2 separate regions of the Homo sapiens genome follow, and region 2 is linked to region 1. The links come from fine-mapping of genetic effects on gene expression. Tissue or cell type: whole blood. Region 1 holds a variant in brackets; the other region holds the start of a gene. All regions are shown on one strand. Distances are between the middles of the regions.

Evidence for each region. PIP is the estimated chance that this variant, and not a neighbour inherited with it, causes the effect.
Region 2: it holds the start of TADA1, and the variant in region 1 is the best candidate, but not a certain one, in a credible set for the expression of TADA1 in whole blood (INTERVAL, PIP 0.62).

The regions. Positions count from the first base shown.
Region 1 is chr1:166,816,128-166,818,812 of GRCh38, reverse strand. No RefSeq gene overlaps it. Among named protein-coding and RNA genes, the nearest start is that of POGK, 22 kb to the left of the region's middle. The variant A/CA (reference allele first, on the strand shown) is at 1,412.
Region 2 is chr1:166,875,006-166,877,690 of GRCh38, reverse strand. It overlaps TADA1 (transcriptional adaptor 1), which reads left to right and starts at 1,427. Exons shown (of 8, transcript NM_053053.4): 1 at 1,427-1,531. The coding sequence starts at 1,458. RefSeq lists an enhancer at 1,041-1,090 and silencers at 1,491-1,540, 1,571-1,970.

The sequences.
Region 1 (2,685 bases):
TAGACTAATACAGACAGATTCTACTGGAGCTCAATCTCTCTTAGAGTAGAGGAGGGAACCAAGCTGGTGGACAAACCATTGCCATCTACAATAGATGAGTGCAACACATTCTAAGGGGCTGCAAAACACTATTGCTATATTTGGAAGGAGAAATAAAAGATAATGCCAAAACTACAGAGCAGAACCTTGTGGAAATTCTGAGCTTGTTGGAAATTCTGAGCCTTGTAGAATTCTTAGCTTGTTGGTGACCAGGCTTTCTTGGGCCATGGTGTGCAAGATCTTTTGGGGTGAACTCTTAGAAGGGTGCCAACTGCTAAGGGTGCCATAGCTTATACACTGTGGGGCTCAGTGTCTACTGGTAGCAACAATGGCAGCAGTGATAACAATACTAGTAGCTAACAGTGGCAGATGCCCTCCTCCTTTCTTCCTATTTCTCTTGCCATTCCTGACTCTTGCACAGGATGATCTTTTTCTGTCCAATAGACATAAATAACCTCAATAGATATAAATACACTTCAAAGCATAGATAATAACAAGAGTAGTAAAGTAATAGGGGAAGGGATAACTTTGGGGTATTTATCACCTATGTATTTAATTTAATTTACTTAATTTTGAGTTTAGTTTGATTTTTACTGATGGCTGTGTTTAACAAACACTGACCAAAAGGCCTGAAAATGTAACAGCTGGCCCTTATGAGCAGGTTCATGACTGGAGGACAGCTGAAAGAATCAGGTACTGGATATTTATGAAAAATGGGTGTTAGAGTTACCAATGTGGATAGGTTTGCTAGGCAAGGAAATAAAATGACTTTTATTCAGTCATTCCAAATTGAAGAGAGAAGAGAAAATGATACAGTTTATTTCCATGAAAGCTGTTAGGTTAGTGGCAATCTAGAATTATTTCTTAAGATCTGTCATTGTCTTCATAGCTCCCTTTTTTTTTCTCCCTCACAGGTTTTCTCAATAGTTTTTTTTAAAAAAGCTTTATTGAGATATAATTCATATACCATAAATTCACCCATTTTAAGTGTGCAATTAAATGGTTTTTCATATCTCCTTTAACTGACCTTCCTTGGAAGCTTCTCTCATTTTTTTTCCTCCTCAGGGAGAAAATGGAGCAGATCACCATGTTGATTTCCTGTCTTAAAGATTACAACTACTTGATCATATTACATAATATTACATTCTGTAGTAACTTTGTTCAGGATAATTAAAACAAATATTTGCAGCAAAGTGGATTCCTCCTAGATAAGCCTCAAGCTGAAGGGAGAGAGCCCCTGACAGTAGAATGCCAGGTTATCAGTGCAGTATTTGGTATTAGTCTTCACATAACTTCAAGGTGTCTCTGAGACCACACTCTTAACATTGATTGGGTTTCAGGCACTGTTTTCCACCACCCTTTTTCCCCCCCC[A/CA]GCTTATGGTGGGGAGACCAAATAAACCATGAAGATAGGAAATAGAACTGAAATTCACTATGGACTTTTATGTTAATGTCTTTATATAAATTATAATTAATAAAATTACTGATGCCAGTGGCTGCTGTCATCACACTGGTTGCAGCAGGGGCTGTACACTCCATAGAACTGGCGGAATCCCTGCCTTTTCTGAGTTGGGGCAGGAGCTCCCTGGGTGCAGCTGCAGCCTCCCAAAAAAAGGCTGCAGACCCAGGCCTTTTGCTCTATGGAGCAGGCAGAAGACACGCCCTCCTGGGCAGGGCTACAGCTGCCCATACAGAGGTTTCTGGATCCGAGCCTCCCTGTGCTCTTGGGGCAGGCTGGGAGCAGGCAGGATCTGCCCTCTGGGGTGCAGCTGAAATTGCCTGACCCTCAGCTGCAGACCTGGCCCTCCCACTCCATGGAGCAGGCAGGAGCTGGGGACAAGCGGGAGCCCTGCCCCTTCCTAGTTGGCAGGGCAGGGGCAGGAGCTCCCCAGGTGCAGCACCTGGGTATCTCTGCAGCCAGCATCATCAGGCCGGGAATGGCCCGCCTTCCCCTGCTGGCTCAGAAATGTCTGCTCCTGCTGCCTGGTGCCACCTCTTCTCTACCGGCAGCAACTCCAATCTCAGAGCAGGGTTGGGACCGAGCCCCAGGGGCATGAATGGCAGACAGATTCCTGGGTGGAAGTGGATGGGTCCCCAGTAAGGCTCCACTTTCAGGCCAGGGAGGGCCTGAAGGCTGGGGGCTGGGCTGCCAGTCCCCTGGACTGGAGTGGGGACTCATGGATCCTCTTCTGCTAGCCCATGGCCAACCATGGACCAACTGGCATTCACTTCCTCCCCTCTGAGGTCCATAAAAGCCCAGGGCTCAGCCAGAGCAGGGCAGAGGATGGCCAGAGGATGAAGAGGGCAGAGAGAGGACAAGATGACCAGCTGCAGAGAGGAGTACCCTCTCTGCTGATAGCTAGAGATGATGGAATGACCAGCATCAGAGAGGAGCTACCCTCTCTCTGAGAGCTGCAGAGACGACCTGCCTGCAAGAGGAACCATGCTCTCCCTCTCCAGGGTCTCTTCTTGGCTGAGGGCTGCAGATATTGGGATGACCAGTTGCAGAGACGAACTATCCTCTCCAGGGCTTCCTCTGCTGAGACCTGAACACTTGCTGGATGACCTGCCTACAGAGAGGAGCCCATCTTCATCTTGTTCACCTTTTACTTGTCTTTGTACCTCATTCTTCCTGGACGCAGGACAAAA
Region 2 (2,685 bases), 59 kb before region 1:
AGTTCAGATCATGAGAACATTTGAATGCTGGAGTCTGGAATTTGTTCAGCAGAGCGTGGGGAGCCATGGAAAACTTAAGTGGATATTTTTTAAATGTGTCAAAACTTACCCAGAGTTTTGACACAGAGAGGAAGACTTTGCCTGACCTTTGTATCTCCTTTCACCTGTGTATCTCCAGTACTCAAAGAGTTCCAGACACATAATAGGAGCTCACTGTATGAATTCAAGTGAAGAGAAGGTGCCCGGCTGGCATTGCAGCCAGGACAGGGCTTGTGGGTTTAGGTTGGGCAGTGAGGAAGTTGAATGAATGAACTTAAGGGGACATCTTTGGAGAAATTACACAAGATCTAAAAGCTATCTAGGATTATTTAAAAAACTTTGGGAGGCAATTTGACAATATACACCAAGGCATTTATAAATATTCCCATCATTTGATCCAGTAATTCTATGTGTGGGACTCTATGCTAAAGTAATAATCCTAAAGGAGGAAAAGTTTTATGCATAAAGAAGTTTTGCTTCATTATGCTATATGCTTCAAAAGCAATATTACAGTATTGCTTTTTAATAGAGAAGAAATGGACACAGTCTAACAATTGGGAAACAAGTTGTGTACCTTCTATCTGTGGGGGTATTTAATATGTTGTCATTAAAATTATTCTAAAGACAATGTAATACTACAGATAAATCCTTAAGTTTAAAAACGTGCAAAATTGAACATAGAATATTTTAAGTCATGGGAGTGTGCGAAGTGAAGGAGAAATCTCTCTCAGTTAAGTGTTTGTCCGGGAGTGGTAAAACACTTTTTCCTTCTTTTTATCTTTATCTTTCTGTGTATTTTCCAAATTTTACATAGTTACCTCATTTACTCAAATACTTATTAAGCATCCACTATGTGCCAGGCGCTGCTCTAGAGAATTGCGGGTAACAGTGAATAAAACACAACTCCTGTCCTCGAGCCATAACATTTACAAGATAAATCAACTAAATGTCATATGAGACGGTTAGTGCTCGGGGAAAAATAAGGCAAGGAAAGAGTAAAACTGATACTGCATTTACTTTTTTAAATGGAGGGGTAAGGTACTCCTCCAGGCAGAAGAACAGCAGGCTGAATTCGGAATTGCCCCAGCGGTAACAGAATGAAAGAGCTTGGGACACGCCAGCCTGTCAGCAACGTTGCAGCCGAGGCGGGGCGCGCGGGTTTAGGATGGGCGCGCGACAAGGTGAAGCGGATCACGTGACTCGAGGGGCGGGAGGAAGAGAGCAGAGTTTGGCCGGGCACCTTCCCTGCGAAAAGGCGGGCGGAGCCGAAAACCAAACAAACGACTTCTGAGAGATTGGGGGCGGGACTGACGGCGGCCGGCTTAGCTTCCAGAGCCAAGGCCTTCCGCCGAGTTGGTTTTTGGGTTGTTGATCGCGGTGGCCGGGCGGTCTGCGGTCGGGCTGAGACACGCGGAGCAATGGCGACCTTTGTGAGCGAGCTGGAGGCGGCCAAGAAGAACTTAAGCGAGGCCCTGGGGGACAACGTGAAACAGTAAGAGCTGCCCTAGCACAGCGTCCAGGCCAACACGCGGGTGCTCTCCTGGCCTCGGGCTGCCAGCCCGCCCCGGAGACGCCCGCGTCGCCCGGGGGCCTGTGCAGCCTGGAGTCCGCGGCGGCGGGGCTTCGGGGTTTCTCCGGCCGGGGCGGGGCGGGCCACCTGAACTCACCGCCCTGGAGAGACCGGGCCTCCTGGGCGCCCGGGAGACATCGGCGGGCGCCGTTGCTCGGGACTGTCTGCCCTGGGTGGGGCGGGAGAAGCGCACTTCGCACCCAAGGGCCTGCTGAGCAGGTGCGGGCCCCAGCGCGGGCGTGCGGGATGCGGGAGGCTGACTTGGGCGGAGTGAGCCGGAGCCCTACGCGTCCAGCCAGAGGGCATAGCGCAGGGCGGCCCGCCCCTGGAGGGCTTCCTGGAGGTGGAGGCCTGTTGAGCTGGTGTGATCTGCTACGGATTATTGGTAAGCTCTTTTGACAGCAATTTCGTAAGGCAGACGGACCCTCTGGTGAAATCACAGTCATTGAACACTACAATTATAGTGATGATAGCAGTAGCGGACATTTTAAACATTTTAAGCTCTCTAAATATATTATCTAATCCTTACAACAGATGTGAGATAGGTACAGTTGTTATTCCCATTTGACAGATGAGAAGACTGAGACCTAGTGCGGACAAGTAACTCTTCAAAAGTCACTGTCAGAGTTGGGACCCACGCTTTTGATTCCCGACTGATGCATTAGAGGGGCTGTAAAGGATCCCAGAGACGCTCAGCCAGACCTTCATCCAGGTTATGGCAGGGGACCTAGTGCACAGTCAGGTTAGGTGCAGAATGGCCAAGGGTAAAATCAGTATCCAGTCAAAGCCAAAGCCAAAGAGCAAAAAAGGAACCTCTGGGATACAAGGAAGAGTTTGGAAATTTTCAAAACGTTGTTATTACAACTTTATTTTTCAAAAATATAGGAAGCAAATATAAACGTTTAAAATTACAGTGCCTGTGTTGTTGCTGCTAGATGGCTTCTCTGGTATTCTACACATTTGCATTACTCAGTGGATGCATACTTTTAAATGATGTTGGTGGAGGAGCAATTTGGGAATACTTAATTTTTCTCCAATACTTTCTTTTCATCCTTCTCTGTTCTTTATTATTACTG